Homo sapiens: one gene and its partners. The protein of the gene in region 3 purifies or fractionates together with the protein of the main gene of each other region. This does not show direct contact. Each region holds a gene or a part of one and is shown on either strand. Other genes may lie near its edges.

Evidence for each region. Proteins that work in one complex are often made in the same cells at the same time.
Region 1: the proteins of HCK (region 3) and PRPSAP2 purify together in Homo sapiens (affinity purification with mass spectrometry; one large-scale study listed by BioGRID and IntAct). This does not show direct contact.
Region 2: the proteins of HCK (region 3) and IVNS1ABP purify together in Homo sapiens (affinity purification with mass spectrometry; one large-scale study listed by BioGRID and IntAct). This does not show direct contact.
Region 4: the proteins of HCK (region 3) and EVL purify together in Homo sapiens (pull-down; one study listed by IntAct). This does not show direct contact.

What each region holds. Positions count from the first base shown.
Region 1 is NC_000017.11:18,927,631-18,931,130, forward strand, and holds part of PRPSAP2 (phosphoribosyl pyrophosphate synthase-associated protein 2), read left to right. Parts: intron 1-1,180; coding exon 1,181-1,327; intron 1,328-2,909; coding exon 2,910-3,068; 3' UTR 3,069-3,500. UniProt on the Homo sapiens protein: Seems to play a negative regulatory role in 5-phosphoribose 1-diphosphate synthesis.
Region 2 is NC_000001.11:185,295,888-185,298,065, reverse strand, and holds the end of IVNS1ABP (influenza virus NS1A-binding protein), read left to right. Parts: coding exon 1-31; 3' UTR 32-1,678; downstream 1,679-2,178. UniProt on the Homo sapiens protein: Involved in many cell functions, including pre-mRNA splicing, the aryl hydrocarbon receptor (AHR) pathway, F-actin organization and protein ubiquitination.
Region 3 is NC_000020.11:32,058,510-32,062,596, forward strand, and holds part of HCK (tyrosine-protein kinase HCK), read left to right. Parts: intron 1-4,087. UniProt on the Homo sapiens protein: Non-receptor tyrosine-protein kinase found in hematopoietic cells that transmits signals from cell surface receptors and plays an important role in the regulation of innate immune responses, including neutrophil, monocyte, macrophage and mast cell functions, phagocytosis, cell survival and proliferation, cell adhesion and migration.
Region 4 is NC_000014.9:100,127,922-100,131,421, forward strand, and holds part of EVL (ena/VASP-like protein), read left to right. Parts: intron 1-597; coding exon 598-827; intron 828-1,641; coding exon 1,642-1,763; intron 1,764-2,410; exon of another isoform or gene 2,411-2,539; intron 2,540-2,715; exon of another isoform or gene 2,716-3,500. UniProt on the Homo sapiens protein: Ena/VASP proteins are actin-associated proteins involved in a range of processes dependent on cytoskeleton remodeling and cell polarity such as axon guidance and lamellipodial and filopodial dynamics in migrating cells.

The DNA.
Region 1 (3,500 bases), on a different chromosome or scaffold from region 3:
TTTTAATTTCTCTGGGATAATTGCACTTACAAATGCAGTTGTTGGTTTGCATGGTAGTTGCAGATATACTCTTATAAGAGACTGTCAAACTGTTTTCCAAAGTGGCTGTACCATTTTACTAGTAGGACTTTTAAAGTAGCGTGTGTGTGTGTGTATGTATTTTTTTTGAGGTATGGTCTGGGTCTGCTGCCCAGGTTGGAGTGCAGTGGCTTGATCACAGATCACTGCAACTTCTACCTCCTGGCTAAAGCAATCCTCCTGCCTCAGCCTCCCAAGTAGCTAGGACTACAGGTGCGTACCTCCATGCATGGCTAATTTTTGCTTTTCTGTTTTTGTAGAGACTGGGTTTCGTCATGTTGCTCAGGCTGGTCTTGAACCCCTGAGCTCAAGCAATCCTCCCACCTCAGCCTCCCAAAGTGCTGGGACTACAGGCATGAGCCACCACGCCTGGCCTTTATATGTATATTTTTGATCATAGTAACATCAGTATGCAATTAAAGAGTAATAATATGTATGTAAAATAAAGACACGAATATTTATTCAACTCTAGACAACGTTTGATGCCATAATGGGTTTAAAATAACTCTGGGAGCCTGGGAATCTAGTCTCTAGATTGGAAACCACTGAACTGGGTATTTTATTATTAAAAACAATAATCATTATTATTTTTTCCATTGTAATAACATGTAAAAAAACATATTTCCCATATGCTCAGTGGAGAAAATTTGGAAATAAGGAAAGTAGCAAGAAGAAGTGGGGGGAAAGAGGCACCCATAATTCTATTACCCAGAGTCAAAAACATCTTTTAACACTTTTTCTGTGCATTAAAAACAAAAAAAGAAAATTATACCTCCATCATTTCTGGTGTGACCTGCATTGTGACAGCACAATGTTGGCCAGTTATGGTGCAGAAAACAGTGCTACCCCTGGGAGCCTGGAGTGTGGTGGGAGATAGCTCCAATAGTGGCAGGTGCTGTGCAGGAAGAGGCTCGTGTGAAAGTACTGGAGGGCTGCCATGGGGCACGGTGATGGGGACATGGGGCCATGCCGTCTGCACAAGGCCAAGTGGAAGAGCAGATTTTTCACGGTAAATGTAGGCAGACCCTTTTTTTTTCCTGGTTGTCTAACCTATTATTGTAGAAGTGCTCATATACATTCTTTTCCATCTGTGCTTTGGCAGGATGACATCATTGATGATGTTGACAGCTTTCTTGCTGCAGCAGAGACCCTGAAGGAAAGAGGTGCATATAAGATCTTTGTGATGGCAACTCATGGCTTGTTGTCTTCTGACGCCCCCCGGCGGATTGAAGAGTCTGCCATTGATGAGGTAACAGGGTCTGGGTGTGTGTGGGTACAGCTGCCTGGGCTTTTGGCACATCTTGATCTTTAGTTACAGAGAGTCAGGACAAGACTGAGATCTTTTGTGGCTGAGAAACGATTCAAGGGCTGGGTGCAGTGGTTCACGCCTGTAATCCCAGCACTTTGGGAGGCCGAGGCAGGTGGATTACCTGAGGTCAGGAGTTGGAGACCAGCCTGGCCAACAGGGTGAAACCCCGTCTCTACTAAAAATACAAAAATTAGCCGGGCGTGGTGGCACACACCTGTAATCCCAGCTACTTGGGAGGCTGAGGCAAGAGAATCACTGGAACCCAGAGGGCAGTGGCTGCAGTGAGCCGAGATTGTGCCACTGCATTCCAGCCTGGGTGACAGAATGAGACTCTTGTCTCAAATAATAATAATAATAATAATAATAATAATAATGTGTACAACTCATTGGTTTTTAGAATGTTCAGAGTTGTGCAGTCATTACCATAGTTGGTTTTAGAACATTTTCTTCTTCCTAGAAAGGAACCCCATACCCATTAGCTGTCACTTCACATTTTCTCTCACTGCCATTAGTCCCTGGGAACCACTAATCTGCTTTCTGTCTCTCTAGATTTGCCTGTTCTGGACATTTCATATAAATGAGATTATACAATGTGTGGTCTTTTGTGTCTGGCTGTCTTCACTCAACATAATATTTTCAAGGTTCATCCATGTTGGAGCATGAATCAATACTTCATTTTATGATCAAATAATGCTGTGTTACATGGATAGTCCACATTTTGTCTCTCTCTTCGTATTTCATGTTGATAGAAAAAATTTTTTTTCTACTTTTTAACTTATGAATGGTGCTGCAGTAAACATTTGTGTACAAGTTTTTGTGTGGACATGTGTTTTCTCTTCTCTTGGATACGTACCTAGGTTTAGAACTGCCAGGTCATACAGTAACTTCATGTTTAAACTTTCAAGGAGCTGCCAGACTGTTTTTCAAAGCAGCTGCGCCATTTTACATTCCCACAGCCGTGAGTTGGGGGGGGGCTCCAGTTTCTCTGCATCCCTCCAGTACTTGTTATTATCTTTTTTGCCATACCTATCCTAGTGGGTGTGAGGTTATCAAATCTTAACCTAAGAAACACAGGCTGGGCGCGGTGGCTCACGCCTGTAATCCCAGCACTTTGGGAGGCCGAGGCCGGTGGATCATGAGGTCAGGAGGTCGAGACCATCCTGGCTAACGCGGTGAAACCCCGTCTCTACTAAAAATACAAAAAAATTACTTGAGCGTGGTGGCGGGCGCCTGTCGTCCCAGCTTACTTGGGAGGCTGAAGCAGGAGAATGGCATGAACCCAGGAGGCAGAGCTTGCAGTGAGCTGAGATGGCATCACTGCACTCCAGGCTGAGCGACAGAGCAAGACTCCGTCTAAAAATAAATAAATAAATAAATAATTGAAACATTGACTTGAGACATAGATCCACTGTGTTTTCCTGTCGTGGCAAGCCTCAGATTTGAGAAGCTGTCACATTTCCAGATCAAACCATGAAGCTACTTGGCTTTCTGATGCTGTGGTTTTTTTTCTTTTGCTTCACAGGTGGTGGTCACCAATACAATTCCACATGAAGTCCAGAAGCTCCAGTGCCCCAAGATTAAAACTGTGGATATCAGCATGATCCTTTCAGAGGCGATCCGTCGGATCCACAATGGGGAGTCCATGTCCTACCTTTTCAGAAACATAGGCTTAGATGACTGAGTTTTCCTTTAGGAAAACTCCCGAGGGCCAAACTGGAAACATAAGAGTGACTGCTCGGTGGGATGGATTTCACAGGAACCGTCATGCTTGTTCCTCCCTCTCCCCTGTAACCTCACTTCTTATTGATTCCTAAGAAGATAGACCAACTTTTTATGTCGGTTTGGGTGTTTGTGAGTTTGGGGAGCAATTTTTATAAAAGAAAAACTTTATTCTCCTCTTTTGAAAAGGTAAGACCTCGTTTTAGTTGTAACTGTTTAAAAAATAACACTTGGAATAAGATTTGTAAGCTCACAAAGCCTTCTTCCAAAGTTGCTTGAGCCAAGTGCTTAAAAAGTTAATAAAATAAAATGATCTGTATGATACCTGCAATTGAAAAGCCGAAAAGATTATACTGTCAAGTCCAGTAAATGACATTTTTAGAGATGCTTTTGT
Region 2 (2,178 bases), on a different chromosome or scaffold from region 3:
GAGCCCCTATACAAAGATTTTCCAGTTTTAACAAATTTAAGACCCTCTCAAACTAACAGGCTTAGTGATGTAATTATGGTTAGTAGAGGTACACTTGTGAATAAAGAGGGTGGGTGGGTATAGATGTTGCTAACAGCAACACAAAGCTTTTGCATATTGCATACTATTAAACATGCTGTACATACTTTTTGGGTTTATTTGGAAAGGAATGCAAAGATGAAGGTCTGTTTTGTGTACTTTTAAGACTTTGGTTATTTTACTTTTTGGAAAAGAATAAACCAAGAATTGATTGGGCACATCATTTCAAGAAGTCCCCTCTCCTCCACATTTGTTTTGCCAATTTGCACATTAAATGACTCTTCCCTCAAATGTGTACTATGGGGTAAAAGGGGTAGGGTTTAAAGATGTAGACAGTTGGGTTTTTTAAGGGCCCTTTTTCAATAACTGGAACACTCTATAACAAAGGATACTTATTTAAATAGATGACATTGACTATTTTTGTTTTTATTAAAAGGAAGCTTACATGCCTACCAATATTTAATCTTTTATGATTGCCTTTTTATAACTTTTTATATTCTCAGCAGAGTGCTTTACCAATTGAAGTAAAATGTGGCAGGCTGGAGTTATTGAAGCAGAGTGGCAGTCTTCAGTTTGCAGAGTAGGGGTCTGTCTTTTAAACTCTGAGTGCAAACTTCAGAGTTCTTGCCTTGGCTGCAGTTTTTTTCCTTCAAGAATGCAGTACTAACATTTATTTGAGTGGAGTTACTGAACAGTAACATAGCTGTGATTTTTGGTATTTGAAACACTGGTTTTAAATATTTTGACTTGTTGAGGGTATGTTTTATATAGCAAGACATTATATAGCAGTAAAAAATGGTGTTTTATCTTCTATATAATTCCTGTTTTTATTATTAACAAAACAGTCCTAAATAGCAGCCCTCAATTGTGAAAAAATTTACTTTAAACTACATTAGGTTGTGAATGCAGGTTTTATCAGAACTATGTTTTTGTTCAGTTTATCTGTTCATATGGATAAATATTGGTTGGGATGACTTGGTGTCTAATGTGTAGTGCTACACACCTAACTTATGGGGCCAAAATAGCATGTCCTAATGCTTGCTGCTGATTTAAACACATTAAAGGTACTTTGCAGGAAATCCTTGCACCATGGGATTAATATCCAATTGCTGCTTGTACACTCATTCATTACTAAAAGTTTTGAGAAATTTTTTTTTCCAGTAATGAGCTTAAGAAATTTGTGGAAAATAACTCACCTGGCATCTTACATCTGAAATAAGGAATGATATAAGGTTTTTTTTTCTCACAGAAGATGAAGCACACAGGAACCTAATGGGCCAACTGGGATGAGGTGACTATTCTGAGATGACTATTCAGTGGCTAACTTGGGTTAGGAAGAAAATAATTAGGTATTTTCTCCAAATGTTCACTGGTACTCTGCCACTTTATTTCTCTCATCTGTTACACAAAGAACCACCAGGAAAGCAAATCAGTTTGGTTGGTAACTCTGTAATTCCTAACTATCACTGGTTTGGTTCTGGACTAAAACTACATTGACAGATTGAATTTGCCTAATATGATGACTGTTTTTAATATGGATCTGTATGTGTTCTATTCAGCACAAGGAAATAAAATTTTAGTTGAGGATTCAGCACTAAAATCCTTGAGATCACTTCTCATTTCATAAGTGACATGCTTAATGCAAATAATATATGGGAATACTTTGGGTCAAAGTTTTCCTGCATTACCTTGGATGCCAAAGAGGTAGTTTGGTGGCCAAAAAGTATCTTTTTTTAAGAAGCTGTTGTAGCTAGTCTGCATGAACATGAGAAGTTTCCATAAAGGAAAAAAAGCAGTGCTCAGTGGCCATTTGTTACTGTTAATCTGTATCTAAAAGGTACATACTTTCTTCAGAGAGGGAGAAAATGGCATAGCCTCAGCACAATTTAAAAAAAAAAAAAAGCTTTTTAACCAGTAGGAATTTTTGAATAGTTTCAAAATAATATTGATAATACCACACTTCTGGTCAACTTAATAAAACACTCTAAATTTCCTAAAAAGGTAGAAAAGCTATAAAATATCTAAACCAAATATTATTGGTTATACTCGGGTGGATCTTTTATTATGAACTTTAAATGTAGGGTTCTGATTTTTGGCTTC
Region 3 (4,087 bases):
TGACAACAGCAAGACTCTGTCAAAAAAAAAAAAAAGGGGGAGAACTGAGGAGGATACTACTCATGATTCCTGCAGCACAATTCCTTTTATGTCAAAACACACACACACACACACACACACACACACACACATACACACACTAGTCCATCATGGCGTATATGTCTTAGTTTGAGTTTCTCCAGAAGCAGACCCTAGGCAAGGTTTCAAATGCAAATAGTTTGAGAGCTGATTCCAGAGACCCTCCTAGGGGAGTAAGGAAGTGAGGCAGGGAACAGGAGGTAGTCATTAAAGGTGTCTTCTAAGCCCAGTTACCACTGCGGGCACCTGGAGCTCAATCCCACTGAGGAGCTCTGGGAGCCAGGGTAGAACAGGCTTGAGAGGTGAGGGAACCGGGGTATTTGTCCACCCTGTTCTCGCTCCTGTCTTTTGTTGAAAACTACTCCTGGGGATGTGATAATTCTCTAGCACTTTCGGCTTGCCAAGCCCATGGGCAGAGCAGGCACCAATAGCCACAGAGAAATCTCTCAGACAAAGAGATGAAGGTGCCGGCAGCTGGAAGTCCAGCCAGAATGTGCAGAAATGGTAAAGGGCAGAGTGATAGAGGCAGGGCACTGACAGCCTCTGCTTCAACATACATGTGTGTAAATGCAGAGGCAGAGGCTGAGGCCAAATGCTGGCAGAGGATATCTGGGTGGGGAAAGAGGTGGCCATGGAGGGCTTATAGAATGAGTAATCCAAGAGTGTCTTAAATGTATCTGTAATGTTTTAATCTTCCTTCCTTCCTTCCCTCCCTCCCTCCTTTCTTTTCTTTTCTTTCTTCTTTCCCTTCTTTCCTTCCCCCCTTCTCCTCCTCCTCTTCCTCCTCCTCCACTTTCTTCTTCTCTTCCTTCCTTTCTTCTTTCTCTCTCTCTCTTTCTTTCTTTTTTCTTTCTTTCTTTCTTTCTTCTTTCCCTTCCTCCTCCTCCTCCTTCTTCTTCTTTCTTGCTTCTCTCTCTCTCTCTCTTTTTTTTTTCTTTTTCTTTTTGAGACAGGGTCTCGCTCTGTCTCCCAGGCTGGAGTGCAGTGATGCTATCATGGCTCATGCAGCCCCAACCTCCTGCGCTCAAGCGATCCTCCCACCTCAGCCTCCTGAGTAGCTGGGATCACAGGCACATGCCACCACACCCAGCTAATAAAAAAAAATTCTGGTAGAAATGGGGTCTTGCCATGTTGCCCAGGCTGGTCTTAAATTCCTCGGCTCAAACGATCCTCCTGTCTTGACCTCTCAAAGTGCTGGTATTACAGATGTGAGCCACCATACCTGGCCTCTAATGGTTTAATTTTTAACAAGAAGGATGCACTAATGTTTTACTAGGTGGTAAAAGGTCATTTTAAAAATAAAATACATACCCTTCAAAAAATAAAAGAAACTGAGACCTGGAGCTTTGTCAATTATAAAAAAAATGTAAAAGGATCAGCGCCTGTGTTACTGAGGCTTTGAGGATTCCATTTGTGGAGGACAGGTTTGGGGGCAGCTGATCTCTCAGTACCACGGCAGGTTAAAGTGAAAAGTGGCCCTGGTGGTGAACTGGCCACCATGTCCTGTCTGGAGGGGGAAACTTCCACTCAGCGGCAGCCAAGGAAAGACTGCTCCTCTCCCAGCAGAAGCGAGCAAATGTGCATCACCCTTCTCAGTTTAAACATATATTTATAGCTATTGGTTTTCTTTTTGTTTGTTTGTTTTTGTTTTGAGACAGGATCTCACTCTGTTGCCCAGGCTGGAGTGCAGTGGGGCAATCTTGGCTCACTGCAACCTCTGCCTCTTGAGTTCAAGCAATTCTCCTGCCTTAGCCTCCCAAGTAGCTGGGATTACAGGCACCCACTACCACGCCCAGCTAATTTTTGTATTTTTGGTTGAGACAGGGTTTCACCATGTTGGCCAGGCTTGTCTCAAACTCCTGACATCAGGTGATCCGCCTGCTGACCTCAGGTGATCCGCCTGCCTCAGCTTCCCAAAGTGCTGGGATTGCAGGCATGAGCCATTGCACCTGGCCTATTTATAGCTATTGTTTAGACGGGAAATCTGGGGGCATCCAGCAGACTAAATGGGGACCTTACTGTCATATCTCATATCCTATTGGTCAGATGGATAATAAACAAATCAACAGGTAATACATTAGGTGCATTAGTCCAGGTCCTTTTTTATTTTTTCTTTTCTTTTTCATACTTAACTTCAGCATACCCTGAGATAGTTCAAGTCCTTTGAGAAGCAGACTCCCATAGCATTAAATGTGCAAGAAATTTATTGGAGGAAATGGCTATGAGAGAAAATGGGAAGAAACCAGGAGAGGACAGGAGAGCCATCAGATAGTGGGGTACCTCTGTCCACTAATGAAAAAGAAAAGGAAGGAAGAAAGGAAGGAAGAAGAAAGGAATAAAAGGAGGACGTGTCTTGGACTGCCATGCCGTATTTTTTTTTTGTAGTTGTTGTTCTGTTTTATTTTGTTTTTTTTGAGACAGAGTCTTGCTCTGTTGCCCAGGCTGGAGTGCAGTGGCGCAGTCTTGGCTCACTGCAACCTCCGCCTCCCGGGTTCAAGCAATTCTCCTTCCTCAGCCTCCTGAGTAGCTAGGATTACAAGCATGCGCCACCACGCCCAGCTAATTTTTGTATTTTTAGTAGAGACGGGGTTTCACCATGTTGGCCAGGCTGGTCTTGAACTCCTGACCTTGTGATTCGCCCGCCTTGGCCTCCCAAAGTGCTGGGATTACAGGCGTGAGCCACTGCGCCCAGCTGCCGTGCCATTCTAAGGAAAGTTTGTCAAGGCTGTTAAGGAGCCCTTGGCCAAAGTCTCTTGACAGAGGTCCCCCAGACATGGGTGGGCTTCGGTCTCCCTGCCACACTCAGTCATTGGCTGGGAGCAGCCCATGAGAGCAGTGATGGACTTCAGAGCACAGCAGCTGAGCCGCTGATCAATTTCTCCAGTCGTACTCCTGCAGTTGGAGATCTGAGAGGTGCATCCTCATGGCCACCACGTTTAAGAGGTGGTTAGGGGCATGAAGACTAGCTGGGAACAGGCTAGACAGTGATGGGAGTTGGGGGGCAGAGGATCCTGTCTTTGCCAGGGTGATGAGGGAAGGTTGCTCTGAGAAGGTACAATCATTAGAGAGACTGAAGGAAGTGATGGAGCCTTTCTGGGTGAAGAATATTCCAGAAACAGAACATGCAATGCCCCAGAGGTATAAGCACAGTTGGTGAGTTGAAGAAGAGCAAGGAGGGCTCCAGTGGAATGATCAAGGGAGAGTTAGAAGGAGACAGATCTGAGAGGCTGAGGAGGGGATCAGATTGTGGAGGTCTTACCCACCTTGGAGAGGACTTGGGCTTTTACTCCAAGTGAGACGGAAACCCTGGGTGGGGGTTGAGCAGAGAAGGAATGCGATCTGACTTACCTTTTTTTTTTTTTTTTTTTTTGAGACGGACTCTCACTCTGTTGCCCAGGCTGGACTGCAGTGGTGCGACCTCGGCTCCCTGCAACCTCTGACTCTGGGGTTCAAGCGATTCTCCTGCCTCAGCCTCCTAAGTAGCTGGGATTACAGGCATGCGCCACCATGCCCGCCTAATTTTTGTATTTTTAGTAGAGATGGGGTTTCACCATGTTGGTCAGGCTGGTCTCCAACTCCTGACCTCAGGTGATCTGCCCGCTTCAGCCTCCCAAAGTGCTGGGATTACAGGTGTGAGCCACCATGCCCAGGATGACTTACATTTTTAAAGGCTCACTTATTTGTAAGAGGCAGAATGCAGATTCAAACCCAGCTCTATCTGACTTCAAATCTCATGCTCTATTTTCAAACTGCCCTGCCTCCTGCCTGCCTTAGAGATAAAATCATTCCAAGAAGGTTCACAGTTGCTCTGGAATTCTGAAATTGACCAAGTGTCCCAAGAGTAACATTGAACATGCTATGAGTTTTATATGTGGTTGAATAAGTGTTTGGAACACAGGCATCTCAGAGCCAGCCCTATGGCTCAGCCAGGCAAATGATCAAAGCCCTGAGTTCTCCTTTAGTGTGTTGCTCTGTCGCTCGCCATCGTGTGAGCCAGGGCCCACGCAGC
Region 4 (3,500 bases), on a different chromosome or scaffold from region 3:
GTTTTCCTCAGCACCATACCCAGCACCTAGCACAGTGCCTGGCACAAAACAGGCTTAGGCAGCACTGGCGGAAGGGGCTGGATGGATGATGCTGGAGCCCAGCACTCGGCATTGCGCCCTGACCCATGCCCCCAGTCGGCCCTGGGACCCACAGGACCTGCCACGGCCCCCAACGACCCAAGTGTCAGTCACAGTTGGATCTTGGTGACCAACTTCTGCCTAGGGGGTGCTAGGTGCTTAGAAGGAGCAGAGAAGAGAAGAGGCACAGACTGTAACCAGACAGCTTCCTCTCCCCCTGGAAAAACATGATTGGAGCAAGAGGAAATTGCCTGGGCTCAAGGAATGTTAAGCAAATAGAGGACACCTGTGGGTCCAGCCAGGCCCCGGAGTACTGAGGACACCAGAATAGGGAATAATTGTGCCAGAGCCAAGTTCATCCCGCGGAGGCTTCCTGGATGAAGCAGGCCTGGAGCTGTTTCTCATCCCTTTGGGGAGCAGCCTGCCCCTGTCCTTCCTCCGGGGAACCTGAGCTGAGAGCAGCAGGCTTGGCCCCCAGCTGGGTGCTGGAGCTGGCTGAGCCTCACTGTTGTGTTTCAGGGCCCATCCTCCCACCAGGACATCCTTCATCTGCAGCCAGCGCCCCCGTCTCATGTAGTGGGCCTCCACCGCCCCCCCCACCCCCAGTCCCACCTCCACCCACTGGGGCTACCCCACCTCCCCCACCCCCACTGCCAGCCGGAGGAGCCCAGGGGTCCAGCCACGACGAGAGCTCCATGTCAGGACTGGCCGCTGCCATAGCTGGGGCCAAGCTGAGAAGAGTCCAACGGGTAAGAGCTCCTGTGTGCGGGGTGGGAATGGGACCGAGGGGACCCTTGTGCCATCTGCAGAGCGCTTGTGTTCCTTCCCGCATCTGCGAGACACAGCAAACTGCTTCCCTGCCCAAAGCTAGCTGGCCCTTGGCCACTTGTTCTCAAACGAGAAATCACATGGGACAGCACTTTGAAATTATGAAGTTAGCCTTTGAGCCTCACGTTGACCTTCACACGTGGGGCAAGAACTATGTCCCCCTTTAGAGATGAGGAAATTGAAGCACAAAGAGCACGAGTAATTTGCTCAAGTCACACCGTTTACAAATTGCAGATTTTGGACTCAAGCCTGGGTCTCCTGAATCTATGTCCATTGCCCTTTCCACTGTAGGAAGCTGTATGCTGGCAACTAGGTCCACCCGGCTGTTTCTTCCCTAACCCTTGCTCATATGTTCTAGAACTGTGCTTGTAAGAATAGCTCTAATACAGACCTTTGGCTTACATTGTGTTTCCTTCCCACAGGATAGTCTCTTCTCCCCTCCCTCCCTCCCTCCATGTGTCATGGCTGGTCTTGGCAAAGACACTAACCATGAGTCTGCAGGCCTGGGGAGTGTCTGCGACTTGTGTGACCTGGGCTGGTCCTTGTCCCTCTCTCGATTCTGGTTTTCTCCCCTGTGGGGTTGGAGAATAATGGACCAGATGGCCCCTGAGGCCCCTTGCAGTGCTGCTGCCATAGGATTCACACGCACACAGTCCCCTGCATCCCCTCACATCGTTGCTGCTCCTGTTCTGCCATCAGCAGCAGAATCTAAAACGCGGCCTCCTTTTTCCTCAGCCAGAAGACGCATCTGGAGGCTCCAGTCCCAGTGGGACCTCAAAGTCCGATGCCAACCGGGCAAGCAGCGGGGGTGGCGGAGGAGGCCTCATGGAGGAAATGAACAAACTGCTGGCCAAGAGGTGGGTCTCTACACCTCCCGAGACTTGGTGTGCCTAGCAGGAAGCTCCTGCCCCCGCCCCCAGCGCTGCACAGAGAATCCTCTCTTGACCCCAGAATCTTTGTTCCCTGGGTTTAGCCAAGCAGGGGAAACTGTTACTTAAGTTTTCCCTTCCCAAGGGGTTAGTCTGAAGCGCAAGCCCACAGGAGTCCTCTAAACTCCAGATCCTTCATTTTAGCTCAGCAAATATTTCCTGAAGCATCTACCATGTACCAGCCCTGTCCTGAGCAGAGATAAATGTGGAGACAATTTCAGAGATAAATGCGGGAAAAAGAACAGTCCTTGCTCTTAAGATCCTAACAGAAATAAGATGTGGCCGCAGTGGTCGAGTTTGCAGAGGACACTCTGGTGAATGTGTGGTGAAGGCACCCCATTCTCCAGGGTTCTTTATGGAGGACTCAGGAGAAGGAGTTATGAAGGGTAGGAGCCCAGAGGGCATTGCCCTGAGCGACGGAGAGAGAGTAGTTCCATCTACATCCCGGCCGGGCTCTTGGGCCTGAGACCTGGCCATGTGTGTCTGCTCGCTGCAGCGGGTGTGGCTGCAGCCTGCCATTGTGGCTCTCCGCTGTTCCCCAAATGAAACCCGAGCAGATGGGGAGATCGTCCAGGTCTTTCTCAAAAGGGATGCAAAGCTTGGATTTTATTTTTAAATATGACTTGGCATCAGGAATGTGCTCACCTTGGACTACCAATATCGTGGCTCACTTAGGCACCAGAGGGCACGGGAGTAGGCCTCACCTGCCAGAACAGAGGAAGCTGCAGCGGGGGCCCTGCTCCCTTGGTAACCCCACCTCCACCCCCTGCCACTTTGTCGCCTTCTCCTGGCCCTCCCAGCTGCCTTCCAATTGGCTGACCCAAGTGAGAACTCTGTGTGCCCAGGGTCTTCACACTGCAGTCCTAGTTCCTCTCATTACCTTCCCGTGGCTCCATGAGGATGATGCGAGATGACAGAGGCCCACAGCTGCAGGCAGCTGGTGTGGCGCTTCATGGCAGGGCCACAGCCTGGGTTTCCTGCCAAGGGGCTCTTTGCTTGCATCACAGATGGCAGGGAGGGGAGGCTCCCCGTGTGTCAGGGAGCAGCAAGGTGGATCCGCAGCACGGGCGTCTCCGGAGCCTCTACTGGGCCTGGGCGTTTGTACATCGCCAAGACAGGAGGCAGGCTTCTGAGCAGTTTCCTGTGAGAGTAAGTCCAGGTGTGTGGGGCTTACAGTGGCCACACAAAGGCGAATGGCTCCGTGGGTGAGAGAGCCGGGAGGGCTCGCAGAACGATGAGGACGTCCCGTGCTGTAAGAGGGACAGTGGGCAGAGTTAAGGTAAGGCTGGGAAGGCTGACGCCCCCTGTGCCTGGAGAGCTAGGTGTGGAGGAAATGGACCAAAAGTCAGGCTGGAAGAGGGAGCCTCCTGGTGCAGGGCATCGGGTTCCACCTCAGAGCACTCAGAGGCGAGGATGGGCCACAGAGAAATAGAAATAGTTTTGGAAAAGAAAATATGAATGCTTTCCCTAAGTCCTAGACCAAGCTGAGGGGAAGCACCTTTCTGTCTGAGAACAGGAAAAGGCCAGTATTGCCAGGAGCCAGTGAGATGCCAGATGCCGGTGGGAGAGTCAAGGCCCTCCCAAGAACAAACATGCTTTGCATAGCTCAGCAGGGATCAATCAGGTGCTCTCTGAAATCCACCTCAGTGATGGCTACTGGGTGGA